4 linked regions of the Homo sapiens genome follow. The gene in region 2 interacts genetically with the main gene of each other region. Each region holds a gene or a part of one and is shown on either strand. Other genes may lie near its edges.

The links. Genes that interact genetically often act in the same process or in processes that back each other up.
Region 1: changes in CYP4F12 (region 2) and FABP4 together harm fitness more than expected from each alone (negative genetic interaction), as found in Homo sapiens cells (one large-scale study listed by BioGRID).
Region 3: changes in CYP4F12 (region 2) and AXL together harm fitness more than expected from each alone (negative genetic interaction), as found in Homo sapiens cells (one large-scale study listed by BioGRID).
Region 4: changes in CYP4F12 (region 2) and GPX1 together harm fitness more than expected from each alone (negative genetic interaction), as found in Homo sapiens cells (one large-scale study listed by BioGRID).

Annotation. Positions count from the first base shown.
Region 1 is NC_000008.11:81,480,434-81,485,177, reverse strand, and holds the start of FABP4 (fatty acid-binding protein, adipocyte), read left to right. Parts: upstream 1-1,944; 5' UTR 1,945-2,010; coding exon 2,011-2,083; intron 2,084-4,579; coding exon 4,580-4,744.
Region 2 is NC_000019.10:15,678,952-15,683,813, forward strand, and holds part of CYP4F12 (cytochrome P450 4F12), read left to right. Parts: intron 1-1,292; coding exon 1,293-1,346; exon of another isoform or gene 1,347-1,440; coding exon 1,441-1,568; intron 1,569-1,738; exon of another isoform or gene 1,739-2,762; coding exon of another isoform or gene 2,763-2,771; exon of another isoform or gene 2,772-3,158; intron 3,159-3,437; coding exon 3,438-3,559; intron 3,560-4,541; coding exon 4,542-4,812; intron 4,813-4,862. UniProt on the Homo sapiens protein: A cytochrome P450 monooxygenase involved in the metabolism of endogenous polyunsaturated fatty acids (PUFAs).
Region 3 is NC_000019.10:41,217,183-41,222,022, forward strand, and holds the start of AXL (tyrosine-protein kinase receptor UFO isoform 1 precursor), read left to right. Parts: upstream 1-2,040; 5' UTR 2,041-2,210; coding exon 2,211-2,295; intron 2,296-3,453; coding exon 3,454-3,676; intron 3,677-3,963; coding exon 3,964-4,064; intron 4,065-4,697; coding exon 4,698-4,840. UniProt on the Homo sapiens protein: Receptor tyrosine kinase that transduces signals from the extracellular matrix into the cytoplasm by binding growth factor GAS6 and which is thus regulating many physiological processes including cell survival, cell proliferation, migration and differentiation.
Region 4 is NC_000003.12:49,356,676-49,360,393, reverse strand, and holds GPX1 (glutathione peroxidase 1), read left to right. Parts: upstream 1-2,040; 5' UTR 2,041-2,115; coding exon 2,116-2,229; coding exon of another isoform or gene 2,230-2,412; exon of another isoform or gene 2,413-2,505; coding exon of another isoform or gene 2,506-2,568; exon of another isoform or gene 2,569-2,627; coding exon of another isoform or gene 2,628-2,646; coding exon 2,647-3,006; 3' UTR 3,007-3,218; downstream 3,219-3,718. Other genes in the region: transforming protein RhoA isoform 1 precursor, read left to right, coding at 12-185.

The DNA.
Region 1 (4,744 bases), on a different chromosome or scaffold from region 2:
TAGACAATTGGAGACTCCAAAAGGTGGGAAGGTGGGAAGGTGGGAGGGGGCAAGGGATAAGAAATTACCTATCAGGGCCGGGCACAGTGGCTCACGCCTGTAATCCCAGCACTTTGGGAGACTGAGGCGAGTGGGTCACCTGAGGTCAGGAGTTCAAGACCAGCCTGGCCAACATGGCGAAACCCTGTCTCTACTAAAAATATGAGAAAAAAAATTATCCAGGCATGTGGTGGGCACCTGTAATCCCCGCTACTAGGGAGGCTGAGGTAGGAGAATCGCTTGAACCTGGGAGGCAGAGGTTGCAGTGAGCCAAGATCGCGCCACTGCATTCCAGCCTGGACAATAAAATCAAAACTCCATCTCAAAAAAAAAAAAAAAAAAGAAAGAAATTACCAATTGAGTACAATATACACTATTTGGGTGATGATTACACTAAAAGTCCAGACTTTATTACAACTCAATATACATATGTAACAAAAATGCACATGTAGTCCGAAATCTATAGAAACAAAAATTTTAAAAAACCAAATTGCAGTGTTAGAATACACATAGTATGTATTCAAATTCAATCATTTAAAAACCTGTAGGAAGCAAATTAATTTAAAACATTATCAAAAACATCCCTCTATTAAGATTTGTCACTTTTATTTACTTTCCATCTGAACAGTCTTATTCAATGGGAAACAGGTGGATCACTAATAGCAAGCCTACCTGGATGGTACATCACCACAGTCTGTGTATCTATGCAACAGTCCAGAGTAGATGAGCGTTATTACTGTGCCATTAACAAATGCAAAACCTAACTTTATCAGGCTTTCATAGCAACTTGCTTTCCTACAGAAAATCCTGTTGCTTACAGAATTTCCTGCCACAAACATTTTTGGGAAGCCCTCAGGACACTTACACAGGCTTGTGAATCAATCACATGCTCAGCAGGTACTGTTCAGTGGGATACACAGTGTAGCGATGCATCACTCTGAAATATTTTAGTTTCTTTTTTTCCCCTAAATCTGGGTATGTTCGTGGGAATTTGCAGCACATGTGAACAACTTCTGTCATTCTTGCATGAGGCAAAGGGAATTGAAAACCACGATTACTTTAGAAAACTAGTTTCACAGATTGGTCACTGTATAAAAGAAGGATATTGGTTTTGGTAGCTTGTGACCACACACCATTTCTGATCTGAATAAATTCAGAACTTATAATACAGTTCAGAAATTGAATGCAGTTTCTCAATATGAGGAAAGTATTTTAGAATAAGGCCTATTTTTCAAAGGATCTGTGGAAATCAATGCTATGCTCTCATTTAGGAGATGGAAAGAGTGAGGTTAAATTATCATTTCGATTAAATCTACAGTCCAGATTACTGGTGGATGAATTGAATGTACTTTTTTATTCATATAAAACATTTGAAATCAGAAATCTGGAGTACTTTTAAATCCCATTATTTATTTTGTTTTAATCGCCAGGTAATTCCTGAGACAGGAGTGTCCCGAAGAGCCTTTGCAATTATGTAAGAATCTCCGAGGCAGTTCTTATGTTCCTCAATTCAAAAGAACCACATAACTGCAATTTAAATAACACCCCACACACACACACAAAATAAGGTCGAAGTTTATCTCAAAATAATTTCCCCTCTCTACACTGGGATAAATATGTATAGGAATAATAGGGGGAAATTCAGTGCACTGAGCATTAAGCTGTCAAAACAGGAATGTTTAAAATATCCTGTTAGTGGTTTAAAAATAATTTGTACTCTAAGTCCAGTGACTATTTGCCAGGGAGAACCAAAGTTGAGAAATTTCTATTAAAAACATGACTCAGAGAAAAAAATGCAGAGGCCGGTAATGAAGGAAATGATTGGATCTCATTCCCAATTGGTCATTCCTAAGATCACATGTTCTGAGCATCTTTAAAAGGAAGTTATCTGGACTCAAGAGGGTCACAGCACCCTCCTGAAAACTGCAGCTTCCTTCTCACCTTGAAGAATAATCCTAGAAAACTCACAAAATGTGTGATGCTTTTGTAGGTACCTGGAAACTTGTCTCCAGTGAAAACTTTGATGATTATATGAAAGAAGTAGGTAAGGAAATGCGTTGTGGAATGACTGGATTTATAATATTTTCTTTTGGGAAAAAGAGTTTACAGCTGTGTTTATAGCAATGTCTGGAAGCCCTGGCCAGAAATGAAAAATGCTGCTTTCTATAGAGAGGCTGCACACATAGCAAGTGATAATCATTTGTTTCTAGAGAAATTCTGAACCAAAGCTACAACTAATGTTTCCTAAAGGTGTACCAATATAAAAAGGTGTCTAAATGGAATGTTTATTGTCTTTAGAAATGATAAGATTTGACTTTATTTGAAAAACTTGGGTATCCTTGGTTTACTTAGCTCTTTGCCTGTTTCTCTTTCATCCCCTTTTGCATGTAAATTAAGCAATAACTTGGAAAAAAGTTAGTATGCAATAATTTTCATTTCAAACTGAAAGCACTCTAGTTCCCTTAATGCAAGGTTCTTTTTCAGTAACCGTATGTTAGCCAATTATTTTCTTGTCTCAATGTTAATCTATTAAAATATGTGGTTGTTTTATGATAGACAAAAATTTTAATTTCAGAAAATATGTTTCTTAAATGGCTTAAATACTTCCTTTGACTAGAAATGACATAGTATGCCATAGAATTATCAACCAATTTAAAAGGAGAATGTTACGCATATAACATACCTCTTCTTTGATAGTAGAGGTTTTTAATTTTTTAGACGCTGTTAACTGTCAGCATGTCATTGGATGAATGTCTCTCAGATAACTATGGAGGTAAATCAGAAAAGACAACTTCTCACTCAGGCAGCTTCTACTTTGAAAACCTTTCTCCCTCAACCCCATGCATGACAGTCCAATAAAGTCAGAACTGGGGTTAGCAAACTGGGGAGGAATTTTATGCAATCTTAGGGTTTAGAATGTAATCATTAAATCGCAAAACACTTAACCCTCCTGTAAATTATACAGTATATATTTTTTTGCTTGTCTGTAACTATGTTTCTTGTTTTTAGATGATAGGGAAATTGGTGACTTCAGCATGAGAGAGACTTTCTAGAATAAACTAGAGTGATTCAATAAACTAATTAATATGCACTGATGCAGAAAAGCCAGGATTTGGGGCCATTTAACTATTTATTTTTAGAAAAATGTTATACTTTTAATATTTATATTTTCTAATAATACTGTGTTTTTAAATTATAAAGGGCTGATTATAATTAAAGTCAATAAAACACCTTCTGCATGAAATTAGCTGCTGTAATTGAGGATGAGTGGGCAGGTATTGTCTTCATCATCAAATAAAAGCAAAATCAAGCAAATGGAGACTGGTTTTTCCCAAGGTCAGTCATTCTAGAATCACACTCAGTTTTGCCTGCATTCACGAAGTGGACTCACTTCATACATTTAATGTTATATTTTGTAACTGAGCCAGGACATGAAGACACACCTGTGGCCATTTTTCAGACAGACAGCCAAATCGGAGCCTCAGCATTACTTATTTTGCGCCATATATCTCTCCCAGTTCTTCCCAATTTCTAACCTTTGGTTGCCTTTAGTCAAAGAAAGAGCTTAGATTTACATGCACATGTTTAAAAAATTCAGCAAATCTATGACTGCCATAAACTCTGCATGACATACACAGTGTCAGCAAGTTACTGCTATGTTAGGCTGTAAATTATTCATTCCATACCTTGCACAAGAAAATATATTCCCCTTTTTAAGAAAGAAAAGTTCACAACTTAGGTGACTGGAAATCAAAGTATTGGCTTCTAACCTATTTTAAACTAAGAAATAGTGATTTATTAAATGTTAAAGTTTTCACAATTTGATGACTAGTCCCTTTTAAATATCCCCTATAAATTATTAGCAATGATATCACCATTCTAAAATGTTATAAATGTAGGAAACATTTTGCCTTTTGTAGAAATTCATGAAAATCTTCATTTCATGGTGGAGTAATTTGAGAAAGAAGCACAGAAAAGTAGACTTGGCAACAAATGCTATGAAATGTGACTTTTGTATACTCAAAACAGACGAACCTTTAACTAAATAACTCTACATTAACCCCCAAAATTCTGTTGAAAATTCTGTCTTTGTGCCTTCTTAAATGTAATATTGAGTATCTAAGATGGAATGGTCAAGTAGCCTCAAGTATTTTATTAAGAGAGAAAAATAACAGTGGCTAACATTTTAAATATATATCTTCCCAACCACTTAACCTTTATACATATTTTTGTTGAAAATAAACAATGGGTCTCCTGAGAAGTTGTATCCAGACCAGAGAAAGGGAAGTTTAAAGAATAGGCCTACACCTATTGTTTCTCAGAGGTTGTGTTTTTGTTTTCTTTGTGGGTTTTCTTTTTTTTTTTTTTTTAAGTATTGGCCTGATTTTATCTGCAGGAGCTGTTTAAATTAGGCCTTTAAGAAACTCTCTGTGCCTTTTTCCTCCTGCACATGCACCTGTGTGCACACACACATTCTCTGACTTGGATAAGTACGTGAGAGAAAATGTAAATCTGACATCTTTTCTTTTCCTAACTGTAGGAGTGGGCTTTGCCACCAGGAAAGTGGCTGGCATGGCCAAACCTAACATGATCATCAGTGTGAATGGGGATGTGATCACCATTAAATCTGAAAGTACCTTTAAAAATACTGAGATTTCCTTCATACTGGGCCAGGAATTTGACGAAGTCACTGCAGATGACAGGA
Region 2 (4,862 bases):
GGTCAGTTCCTTCTACCTCATCCTATCACTCATCCACCCTAAGTTTCCTGCTCTCCTCCTATGGGCTTCAGGATTCTCCAATAGGAGAACCCACACCAGCTGCTTGACCTCCCCTTGCTCTCTGCTCTTCTCATCCTTGGACACACCAGGCTGAGCTAGGGAAGTGGCAGCATCCCACAAAATCTATGGCTCTGACCCCCAAATCCTTAGTGACTCTGTGCAGGTCACCAGCTCTCTGGCTGCTGAGGTCTCTTTCAGTTGTGAGTGATGGAAACTCAACTTCGTGTGCTCTAAGCAAATAAAGAGAGTCAAAGGAGTGTAAATTTCAGGGAGGGTGGTCTTCAGGCATGGCTGAATCCAGGTGTCAATGAACATTATCAGGGATCTGTCTCCTTTTCTTAATTTCACCATTTCTCTGCATCACTTTTTCTTTTAAGGCAGCCGTTCTCTTATCTGTCAACCATGGGTCCTAGCAGCTCAGTTCTTGTCCGAAAGCTCACCTTACCCCCAGGGGTCCCATAAATAGCCGCCTATAGTTTCAATATTATACCTGGTTATATCTTTTCTGTTTAACCTGGGATCATATGGAGAAGTCATCATGTGTGTGGCTCAGCTGTGGTCGAGGACACTTGGGGCATGTCAGAGACTTTCTGGTTCTTCTCTGACATGTGATTTGAAATTGTCTTTTCTCCTCCTTGTCATCTCTTGGCCATGTTTGTAGCTTGTCCAAGGTCTGGGAGCTAGGGTCTCTTTGGAATTGTCAGAGTTATTATTTTAGTCTCCCTGAGCCAGGTTTCGGAATCCATTCTAATCACGCTTGAAGAAAACTCTTGGTTCCACCTGGGACATGTCTGGGACATTTAAGAAATCACATTTAAACCCTATCTGGGGCCTGTCTGTGGGGTACACAGAGGTCATGTCAGACTATCTCAGGTCCATGTCAGGAGATGACAGAGAGTGCTATGGCAGACAGGGTGTCCGAGGTCCTTTAAAGGTATTTTGTAGAGTGTGGAGCTGTGTTCAGTTGTTGCAGAACATGTTGGGATATATAGGAGCCATGTCAAGGCGTGCTGGGGTGTGCTATGACCTGTTAGGTTGTGTCATAGCTTTACTGTGCTGTTGCAGCCTGGGCTGGTCCTTCTTCCTCTATCCTCCCTTCGTCCTTTGCCCTTGGCCCCCTTCCTGCTATGCTGGGCATGGAGTGGGGAAAGTGCTGGTAGGCAGCCTTGCCCTATACCTGAAGTTCCTCTCTTGCCCTCTACATGGCCCCTGATGGTCCTCGTTCATGTCAGCTGCCATTGCACCCAAGGATAATCTCTTCATCAGGTTCCTGAAGCCCTGGCTGGGTGAGTACCTGCAGGTGAAAGGGGTTGGGGACAACCTTGCGGGGAGGGTAGGGGAAGTGCTGCTCTTGCCCACTGTCCTTGGCTGCCCTACTAGGAGAAGGGATACTGCTGAGTGGCGGTGACAAGTGGAGCCGCCACCGTCGGATGCTGACGCCCGCCTTCCATTTCAACATCCTGAAGTCCTATATAACGATCTTCAACAAGAGTGCAAACATCATGCTTGTGAGTCCCTTGAAGTCTGGGTCCCAGATGGAGTCTTGGGGTGGAGGGACCATGGACACATCTGGTCTGGAATTTTGGCTCTTCTGGGTGGCACTGGGCCATTGCTCTTCCTCTCTGAGCCTTGGTTTCCTCATCTGTAAAATGGGGATGATAATCCCTACTTGAAAGGTCATTTACTTGGCACACAGTAGGTTCTCAGAAGGTGTCAGTTTCTGTGTTTTTCTCACAGAATCCCTGTAAACTCAAGAGAGTAAAAATGAAGATTGTGTAGTAGTCATTGCTGATTATAAACCACTTCAGAACTCATTGGCTTAGAGCCATAAGGGTTTACAATTGCTAACGAGTCTGTGAGACAGCTGGCCAGTTCTTCTGGATGTGGAAGGGATCACTCTTGGCACATGAGCAGCTGTGGGTCGGGGGGCAGCTTTGCTGATCCTGGCTCAGTTCATTCACGTTTGGGGCTTCAGTACCTTCAGACTCATCTGGGATGGGCTCAGCTGTGACACCTGGACTTTCCCCCATGTGATTCTCTGCCTCCAGAAGGCACCCTGTTGTTCACATGGCAGAGACTGGGCTCCGAGAAACTGAGAGGAGGCTGCAATGTCTGTGGACATTGTCTCTGCAATACTTCAAAGTTCAACCAGGTTTGAGTCTATTAGAGTTATTACATCATCATTTCACCACATTGTACTGGCCAAAGAAAGTCGAAAGTCAAAAGTCCAGTACAGACTCAAAGGGGTGTAAAATAGAACGCATCTCTTAATGGGAGTTGCTGAAAAATTACTGTGGAAAGGGTACGAATACAGGGAGAAGTGAAGAATTGGGGGTCAGGATTTTGTGAAGTGTCTAGGATTTGTTTTAAATATGCAAACTGATAAGTTAGCTTGTTACTGTCTCATGCATTCTAACAGATTCCTGGGTCAGAGACAAAGGGTAGTTGATTACTCATGGCACAATAAGCAACATGTACTTCTTGTTGGTTTGTATCCTTTTTCTGAGTCAACCTAAATTCCATGGGGGTGACACTGGTGGGCCTCTACATTAGCCTGCTCATGCAGTACATTGCATGACATACAATGGGCATTAGGCTTAGGGAATCTACTTTAATAGTGGCAGAAACAAGCCTGATATTGGTCCAGGAGGAGTCATTGCCTTATCTCTCCAGGTGGTTATCTGCAAATACAACTCTGAGAAATGGCTCAGGTAAGAACATCACAGTCTTGCATTGGTGGCATACGCAGCAAGGATGCTCAGGGCTGATGAAGAAGTGCCTCTTCCAACACAGGGATATTTTTGAAATGAATTTATTACAATGGAGATGAATAAAGCAAACATTTACTCATCATATGCCTGAGAAAATGTCATGTCCCAATGCCAGGATATAAGTTGTCTAAGTTAATTTTAATAATCCTGTGAGGTTATGGTTATTTTTGTCCTATTGCAGATGATGAACTGAGGGCCAGAGAGATTAGGGAGCTGGACAGAGTTCAACCAGCCAGGAAGTGAGCTAGGACTGGTGGAGCAGAGATTCTATCCTGGTTTATCTGGCCCCAAAGCAGATCACCTTGACCGTTATTGAATATTTGACAGGTGGGACCTAGAGGAGGGCAATATGTTGACCAAGGGCACATAGAGCATAGGAGACAGAGCTGAGACTTGAATGCAGGTCTCTTGACTCCAAGCCATGGGTCTTCATCTCCTATACTAACAGTTTCTGCTCGCATCCCAGTCTGGTCCTCGCTGGCAATGGGTTCCTGGGGCAGAGGACCAGGAGGCTGGTTGTGGGGGAGTCCATCCTGATGTTTGGGACTGGGGAGGGGCACAAAGGAGGCAGGGCCCAGCTCTAGCTCTCTTCCCTTCTCTGGCCAGGACAAGTGGCAGCACCTGGCCTCAGAGGGCAGCAGTCGTCTGGACATGTTTGAGCACATCAGCCTCATGACCTTGGACAGTCTACAGAAATGCATCTTCAGCTTTGACAGCCATTGTCAGGAGTGAGTTCCTTCCTAGGGCCTGGGATATGAATCCATGGACCAAAGGGAGAAAGTTGGGGAGGGAGGAATGAGCAAAGTAACCAGAAGTACCTTTCGGGAGGATTTGTATCATAGCTGTGCTTTGAAGGTCGAGGAAGAGGAGAAAGTGCTGTCTTTCCAGGTAGAAATATGTGTGTAAAAGCAAGAAGGTTAGGATGAGCCAAGCATGTGCAAGAGACAGTAGAAATGAGGTTGTGGAAGTAGGGGCTAGATATTAAGGGCACTGAAAATCAGGAAAAGTGGTATGAAGTTTATCAAGACATTTCCAGAGACCTTTTGTAGTTTCAGCTGATGATGGATGTGATAAGAGCTGAGCTGTGTGGGAAACTGATAGCCCACCACCACGCCCAGCTAATTTCTGTATTTTCAGTAGAGAGGGGGTTCACCATGTTGTCCAGGCTGGTCTCAAATTCCTGACCTCAGGTGATGTGCCCTCTTTGGCCTCAGAAAATGTTGGGATTACAGGCATGAGCCACTGTGCCCAGCTGCTTCTTCTTTCTTACAGGGTGAAAGAGAGAGGGAGAGAGAGAGAGACAGAGAGACAGAGAGAGAGAGAGAGAAAGAGAGAGAGAGTTGGTTATGCTGGGGGCTGGAGCAGGGCTGAACTGGAAGAGGATGAAGTCTGAGTTGTGTGGACAGTTTTGGTAAGGAAAATGATCAGTACTGCATACTGGATGGGAGACAGAGGAGAGAAGCATGGTGTCCAAGCTATACTCTAGGTGCCTAGGTGCATGGAGACAGCTCTCTCAGAGATAGGATGCAGGGAGAGAAGACAGTCTAGAGAGTCAGTCTCATGACTGATACCCACCATGTATCTCTAGGACCATCTATTTCTAGATACTCAGTTTCCTGATGGGAGGTAGCTCCTGGCTGCTGGTGGGAGGTGTTCCTGGGGCTTTGCATACGTTACATTGTTGCCTCCCTTTCTGCCCTTGCTCTGCAGGAGGCCCAGTGAATATATTGCCACCATCTTGGAGCTCAGTGCCCTTGTAGAGAAAAGAAGCCAGCATATCCTCCAGCACATGGACTTTCTGTATTACCTCTCCCATGACGGGCGGCGCTTCCACAGGGCCTGCCGCCTGGTGCATGACTTCACAGACGCTGTCATCCGGGAGCGGCGTCGCACCCTCCCCACTCAGGGTATTGATGATTTTTTCAAAGACAAAGCCAAGTCCAAGACTTTGGATTTCATTGATGTGCTTCTGCTGAGCAAGGTAGGTTTCTCTATGATCTGAATTTAGGTGAGAGAATAGAGCTTCATGTC
Region 3 (4,840 bases), about 26 Mb from region 2:
GGGTGAGAAAGCGAGAGAAGCCTGGGGAGGCGAGGGGAGGGTCACAGAAACATAAGGAGTTTAGGGTTCTGCTGAAAGGTTTGGGGCAGAGGTGGGAAAGGGTTTGGTTTGAGATTGGGAAGAAGCCTTCTGACTGTTGAGTGGGAGACAGGTTGGAAGGAGCAACAGAAGCCAGCAGCCCATGGCCGGGCACAGTGACCCACGCCTGTAATCCCAGCCCTTTGGGAGGCCGAGGCGGGCAGATCACGAGTTCAGGAGTTCCAGACCAGCCTGGCCAACATGGTGAAACCCCGTCTCTACCAAAAATACAAAAATTAACCTGGCATGGTGGTGCACACCTGTAATCCCAGCAACTCAGGAAGCTGAGGTGGGAGGATCACTTGAACCCAGGAGATGGAGGTTGCAGTGAGCCGAGATCGAGCCATTGCACTCCAGCCTGGGCAACAAAGCAAGACTGGGTCTCAAAAAAAAAAAAAAAAAAAAAGACACAGCCCAGGGAGACAACGGTGAAGGGCCCTAAGTGGCCAGTGACAAGGAGCTGGGAGCTTGCCCTGAGGGCAGCAGGAGGCCATGGGCAAGCAGAGAAGGGACAGGGTAGGATTTGACTTTCAGAAACAGTCCTCTGGTTGCTAAATGGGAGAAAGGAGTGACAGTAGAGGCAGGAGAAGGCAGGATCAGACGGGGGTGCTGGGAAGGGGCAGGTAGAAGAGACATCAGGAGGCCAAACAGATAGGACTTTATGATGCACCGTAGGTATACCAGTACCCAAACACAGGTGGCCAAGAGCAGAGGGATAGACGCCCAGCCTCCTCCTCACAGACATCCAGGCATGCAGAGCCCTCCACGTGCCAAACACACAGGGCCGAGGAATGGAAGTGCAGCAGAGCCGATACGCAGGCAGCAGATCTGCAATAACCAGGACACACAGTCCCACCAGAAGGAGAGAGCAGTGGAATGATCAGGGCTCACTGCAGCCTCGATCTCTTGGACTCAAGCGTTCCTCTCACTCCAGCCTCCCTAGTAGCTGGGACCACAGGCACACGCCATGATACCTGGTTAAGTTTTAATTTTTAAACTTCTTGTAGAGATGGGGGTCTCAGTGCATTGACCAGTCTGGTCTCGAACTCCTGGGCTCAAGCGATCCTCCCACCTTGGCCTCCCAAAGTGCTGGGATTACAGGAGTGAGTTACTGTGCCCGGCCAACAACTATTCTTATTCCCATTTTACAGATGGACAAACTGAGGCTCAGGAGGCCAGTCACTTGCCTGTAGCCCACAGTTAGTGGTAGCACTGGGATTCCAACTTGGGTCCCCTTCATGTCGCCTGTATTTGGTGTCCCATTTAGGCGTCCATGCAGGTTTTGGCGTGTCTGAAGATCTGTGTCTCCCCAAGTAAGTGTCCCCCATGGATGCCCACCCAGCCGTGTCCTCCTGTCTCTGAGGTTTCTCCAGGAATCGAGCTCCTGGCCTGGCTTGTCTGAGTGTGTCTGTGGGCCAGTAGCATGCCCCTGCCCGTCTGGGTCCCTCTGCGTGTCTCTGCTTGTCCTAGCCTGTGTGTGTCAGTGACGTCTAAGAGTGTGTGTGCGTGCGTGCGTGCGTGCGTGTGTGTGTGTGTGTGTGTGTCCTTGTCCGAGGAGCCGAGAGAGTGAGGGGGAATGAAGGGCCAAGGAGGCCTGGCTGGGGCTGGGCTGGGGGTGGAGGCGGGGAGAGGGGCGTCACGGCCTGAGCTGAGAGGGGAGTGGAGTTCTGGAGGAATGTTTACCAGACACAGAGCCCAGAGGGACAGCGCCCAGAGCCCGGATAGAGAGACACGGCCTCACTGGCTCAGGACAGGGGGCACAGCCACCAGGGTCCCCTTCCCCCTCCTCAGCTCCCTCCCTGGCCCCTTTAAGAAAGAGCTGATCCTCTCCTCTCTTGAGTTAACCCCTGATTGTCCAGGTGGCCCCTGGGCTCTGGCCCTGGTGGGCGGAGGCAAAGGGGGAGCCAGGGGCGGAGAAAGGGTTGCCCAAGTCTGGGAGTGAGGGAAGGAGGCAGGGGTGCTGAGAAGGCGGCTGCTGGGCAGAGCCGGTGGCAAGGGCCTCCCCTGCCGCTGTGCCAGGCAGGCAGTGCCAAATCCGGGGAGCCTGGAGCTGGGGGGAGGGCCGGGGACAGCCCGGCCCTGCCCCCTCCCCCGCTGGGAGCCCAACAACTTCTGAGGAAAGTTTGGCACCCATGGCGTGGCGGTGCCCCAGGATGGGCAGGGTCCCGCTGGCCTGGTGCTTGGCGCTGTGCGGCTGGGCGTGCATGGCCCCCAGGGGTGAGTGATGGGGGCTCCTTGGGGCAGGGATCCCCTCGGAGGGGCTGGGGCAGGGGTAGGAGGTGGGGGATGATGGCAGGTGTGGGGGGCCTGGGCTGGCTTAGGGAGTTTCCTTGGGACCACAGAAAAGGGACTTCAAGGGAGGGAGACACAGACTCAGAGACACCAAGTGCGGCAGAGGGAGAGAAAGACTGAGAGAGGAACTGAAGGGCAGGGGGGACAGAAGAGAGGACCCGGAGAGACAGACAGACAAGGAGAAGCTGAGGGCAGGGGTGGGGGCTGGACCTGAGAAGGGGGCCATGGGGAGAGGGGCTGAGCTGAGGGTCGCCAGGAAGGAAGAAATCTTTCCGAAGGGGCACCGAGTCAGGCAGTGGGATGAGGAGGGCTCTGGAGCCCTGGGGGAAAACGCTTCTCCCTGCCAACACCACCCCCCTGACCCGCCACTTGTCCCTACCCCACCAGTCCACTCCATCTCTGGGGAGGAGGCTCTCACTTTGTCTCTCTGTCTCTGCCTCCAGCTCTGCTATCTCTGTGGGTCTCTGTTTCTCTCTCTTTCACAGTCTCTGCCTTTATCTCTCCCTGCTCTCTGAGTCTCTCTCTCTCTTCTCAGCCTCCCTCTGTGACTGTATCCCCCCTCCGCCCCCACCTTTTCTTCTCTCTTGAGGGCTGTTTCTTCATTTTTTCTGTCTTGCCTTGTATCTGTGCTCCTCTCTGTCTCATCTCCCCTGCCTTTCTCTGGCTTCTCCCTCCGCCACCACCCTTATCTCCCCCCACCACCACCCTTATCTCTCTCCCCCAACCCCTGATTCTTCCCCTCCATCCACCAGCACCAGCGCGACCTGTTAAGTCTCTAGAGACCTAAGAGAGGACGGAGGGGGCAGGGGCTGGCCCTGCCAGGCAGTGCAGGGCGTGGGAGGCTGCCAGATCCCGAGCCTCCTTCCCGACGGGATGGACGCTAGATCCCAGTCCCTTGGGAGGGCTCCCGTCCTCCTCTCAGAGCCTCCGCCCTCCACCCCACTCTGAGGTCACTCTGCAACTATGTCGGCCTAAGGGCCTGGCGGGGTCCTGGCCGCCGGTGGGCAGGCAAGGACAGGGTGGAACTGAGGGCCGGAAGGAGCTGGGGGGTTCCTAAGCTAACTCTTCCCATCTCCCCTCCAGGCACGCAGGCTGAAGAAAGTCCCTTCGTGGGCAACCCAGGGAATATCACAGGTGCCCGGGGACTCACGGGCACCCTTCGGTGTCAGCTCCAGGTTCAGGGAGAGCCCCCCGAGGTACATTGGCTTCGGGATGGACAGATCCTGGAGCTCGCGGACAGCACCCAGACCCAGGTGCCCCTGGGTGAGGATGAACAGGATGACTGGATAGTGGTCAGCCAGCTCAGGTGTGTGGCCACATCCCCGAATCCCACTCCCACCTCCGTCACACAGAGGGCAGAAAGCCCACCTGGGTGGGAACCCCAGTTTGACCACTTGTCAGCCGTGCGGCTTTGAGCATGTGATGGAACCTCTAGGTTTCGTTTTCCTCTTCTGCAAAATGAGTTAATAATAGGACATACTTCGTGGTTGTCATGAGCTTCCAGACTGGACACCCTCTTTCCGTTCTGACAGACCCCCTCCCAGTGTCCAGCTCTGACCCTGAACCTCTCTGTCTCTCCTCTTGCCCTGTCAGAATCACCTCCCTGCAGCTTTCCGACACGGGACAGTACCAGTGTTTGGTGTTTCTGGGACATCAGACCTTCGTGTCCCAGCCTGGCTATGTTGGGCTGGAGGGTGAGCTCTGGGGTCAGGGGTCCTGAGGGGTCAGAGGACATGTGGCGCTCATAGGTTGTGGGAAGTCAGGAATCCTGAGGGGTCAAGGTCAAAGGGTGCTGGAGGATTCAGGATGAACCTAGCGTCATACAGCCTAAGAATGTCAGAGTTTTGGGTGGTCAAGAAGCTGGGAGTCCATATAAGTTATGGTGCCAAGGCTGGGGGATTATATGTTCTGGGTGAAAAGACTTCTTGGGGGTAGTTGGATGTCCTAGGCATCAGACACCATCAGGTCACAGGAGGCCATTCTGGTCTTCAGATAAGGCGTCAGAGGCACGCAACGTACCCCTGTCCCCACGACCCCAGCGGTCTCTTTTTTCTCATCCATAGAATGAGATGAGGATGAGCTGTCAGACATTCTGGAAGAGAGACATGAGGAGCTCAGCTATCGTGGGGGGTCTGACATGGGAGGAATCAGATATTGGGGTCACGTGTGTGTTGGGTATGGCTCAGGTGCCCTCGGGGATCAGATAAGGCAAGTCAATGACCCTGCAGGGTGGGTTTGCTGCCCAAAGCCTACAGCATCCTAGTGGTGAGTCAGGCATCTTGGGGCCTCAGAGGGACCCCAGCCTCTACCACTGCCCACCCCGCTAGGCTTGCCTTACTTCCTGGAGGAGCCCGAAGACAGGACTGTGGCCGCCAACACCCCCTTCAACCTGAGCTGCCAAGCTCAGGGACCCCCAGAGCCCGTGGACCTACTCTGGCTCCAGGATGCTGTCCCCCTGGCCACGGCTCCA
Region 4 (3,718 bases), on a different chromosome or scaffold from region 2:
TTCTTTGCTAGGAGCCGGTGAAACCTGAAGAAGGCAGAGATATGGCAAACAGGATTGGCGCTTTTGGGTACATGGAGTGTTCAGCAAAGACCAAAGATGGAGTGAGAGAGGTTTTTGAAATGGCTACGAGAGCTGCTCTGCAAGCTAGACGTGGGAAGAAAAAATCTGGGTGCCTTGTCTTGTGAAACCTTGCTGCAAGCACAGCCCTTATGCGGTTAATTTTGAAGTGCTGTTTATTAATCTTAGTGTATGATTACTGGCCTTTTTCATTTATCTATAATTTACCTAAGATTACAAATCAGAAGTCATCTTGCTACCAGTATTTAGAAGCCAACTATGATTATTAACGATGTCCAACCCGTCTGGCCCACCAGGGTCCTTTTGACACTGCTCTAACAGCCCTCCTCTGCACTCCCACCTGACACACCAGGCGCTAATTCAAGGAATTTCTTAACTTCTTGCTTCTTTCTAGAAAGAGAAACAGTTGGTAACTTTTGTGAATTAGGCTGTAACTACTTTATAACTAACATGTCCTGCCTATTATCTGTCAGCTGCAAGGTACTCTGGTGAGTCACCACTTCAGGGCTTTACTCCGTAACAGATTTTGTTGGCATAGCTCTGGGGTGGGCAGTTTTTTGAAAATGGGCTCAACCAGAAAAGCCCAAGTTCATGCAGCTGTGGCAGAGTTACAGTTCTGTGGTTTCATGTTAGTTACCTTATAGTTACTGTGTAATTAGTGCCACTTAATGTATGTTACCAAAAATAAATATATCTACCCCAGACTAGATGTAGTATTTTTTGTATAATTGGATTTCCTAATACTGTCATCCTCAAAGAAAGTGTATTGGTTTTTTAAAAAAGAAAGTGTATTTGGAAATAAAGTCAGATGGAAAATTCATTTTTTAAATTCCCGTTTTGTCACTTTTTCTGATAAAAGATGGCCATATTACCCCTTTTCGGCCCCATGTATCTCAGTACCCCATGGAGCTGGGCTAAGTAAATAGGAATTGGTTTCACGCCTGAGGCAATTAGACACTTTGGAAGATGGCATAACCTGTCTCACCTGGACTTAAGCATCTGGCTCTAATTCACAGTGCTCTTTTCTCCTCACTGTATCCAGGTTCCCTCCCAGAGGAGCCACCAGTTCTCATGGGTGGCACTCAGTCTCTCTTCTCTCCAGCTGACTAAACTTTTTTTCTGTACCAGTTAATTTTTCCAACTACTAATAGAATAAAGGCAGTTTTCTAAACTTCCTGTATCCTGTTGTTTGTGTTGCTCTCTCCAGGGCTGGGGGTAGGAGGATGCAAGGACTTCCTGGCCTAGCTCACCCTGGAGAGGTTTGTTGAGTGCAAAGGACTAGCTTGTGCCCCACCTCCCACCCACCCAGCAGCTAATCTGGTCCCTCCCAACAACATGGAAATGATTACCCTGTACCGCATTCTGGTTCAGATTTGGGGGTAGGGTGAATGCAGCCTGAGGAGGCCAGGGAGGGAGGACTCCGGCAGCGTTTCCTTGGCCTCGGCGAGCTACTGGGCTCCACTTAAGGAGGCTGGGGCAGAGCTTCCAGGACTCTGCCCGGTTAGAAAACCCGCACGAGGGCGGTGCCGCTTTGGAGACAGGGAGGAGGGAGACCGGAAGCCTAGATCCCTCTGGCTGTCCCCTGCACTGCCGGTAACATGGCACAGGAGAGGAGGGCTGTTTGTGCACGGGCAGCTCCTGCAGCTGCTGCCGTCGCCCACCAGCCTCCTATGCCAAACCCCACATCCTAACTCAGGAACCTCTGAGAAAAAACGGAGCCCTCGAGGGCCCCAGCCCTTGGAAGGGTAACCTGGACCGCTGCCGCCTGGTTGCCTGGGCCAGACCAGACATGCCTGCTGCTCCTTCCGGCTTAGGAGGAGCACGCGTCCCGCTCGGGCGCACTCTCCAGCCTTTTCCTGGCTGAGGAGGGGCCGAGCCCTCCGGGTAGGGCGGGGGCCGGATGAGGCGGGACCCTCAGGCCCGGAAAACTGCCTGTGCCACGTGACCCGCCGCCGGCCAGTTAAAAGGAGGCGCCTGCTGGCCTCCCCTTACAGTGCTTGTTCGGGGCGCTCCGCTGGCTTCTTGGACAATTGCGCCATGTGTGCTGCTCGGCTAGCGGCGGCGGCGGCGGCGGCCCAGTCGGTGTATGCCTTCTCGGCGCGCCCGCTGGCCGGCGGGGAGCCTGTGAGCCTGGGCTCCCTGCGGGGCAAGGTACTACTTATCGAGAATGTGGCGTCCCTCTGAGGCACCACGGTCCGGGACTACACCCAGATGAACGAGCTGCAGCGGCGCCTCGGACCCCGGGGCCTGGTGGTGCTCGGCTTCCCGTGCAACCAGTTTGGGCATCAGGTGCGCCGGGCGGAGCGGGGCGGGGCGGGGGCGGACGTGCAGTAGTGGCTGGGGGCGCCGGCGGTGTGCTGGTGGGTGCCGTCGGCTCCATGCGCGGAGAGTCTGGCTACTCTCTCGTTTCCTTTCTGTTGCTCGTAGCTGCTGAAATTCCTCTCCGCCCTTGGGATTGCGCATGGAGGGCAAAATCCCGGTGACTCATAGAAAATCTCCCTTGTTTGTGGTTAGAACGTTTCTCTCCTCCTCTTGACCCCGGGTTCTAGCTGCCCTTCTCTCCTGTAGGAGAACGCCAAGAACGAAGAGATTCTGAATTCCCTCAAGTACGTCCGGCCTGGTGGTGGGTTCGAGCCCAACTTCATGCTCTTCGAGAAGTGCGAGGTGAACGGTGCGGGGGCGCACCCTCTCTTCGCCTTCCTGCGGGAGGCCCTGCCAGCTCCCAGCGACGACGCCACCGCGCTTATGACCGACCCCAAGCTCATCACCTGGTCTCCGGTGTGTCGCAACGATGTTGCCTGGAACTTTGAGAAGTTCCTGGTGGGCCCTGACGGTGTGCCCCTACGCAGGTACAGCCGCCGCTTCCAGACCATTGACATCGAGCCTGACATCGAAGCCCTGCTGTCTCAAGGGCCCAGCTGTGCCTAGGGCGCCCCTCCTACCCCGGCTGCTTGGCAGTTGCAGTGCTGCTGTCTCGGGGGGGTTTTCATCTATGAGGGTGTTTCCTCTAAACCTACGAGGGAGGAACACCTGATCTTACAGAAAATACCACCTCGAGATGGGTGCTGGTCCTGTTGATCCCAGTCTCTGCCAGACCAAGGCGAGTTTCCCCACTAATAAAGTGCCGGGTGTCAGCAGAACTGTGTGTATGTCCTGTGTCATTGTCATTTGGGAATTCTTTTTCTTTTCTTTTTTTTTTTTTTTTTTTGAGACGGAGTTTTTTGCTCTATTGCCCAGGCTGGAGTGCAGTGGCGCAATCTAGGCTCACTGCAAGCTCCGCCTCCCGGGTTCACGCCATTCTCCTGCCTCAACCTCCTGAGTAGCTGGGACTACAGGTGCCTGCCACCACGCCCGGCTAATTTTTTGTATTTTTAGTAGAGACAGGGTTTCACCGTGTTAGCCAGGATGGTATCGATCTCCTGACCTCGTGATCCACCCGCCTCGGCCTCCCAAAGTGCTGGGATTACAGGTATGAGCCACCGCACCCGGCCTGGCGATACTTTTTCTAACCTCATTGTCATAGTGGTGGGAACTTAATCCTCCTTCCCTTATCCTAGCCAAGTCTGAACTTTCTGTCCTTTTGTCTGCAGCGTGTAGGATCCACTCTTTCCTTTGTGGGAAGTCTGGCTCCTGGCCTGCA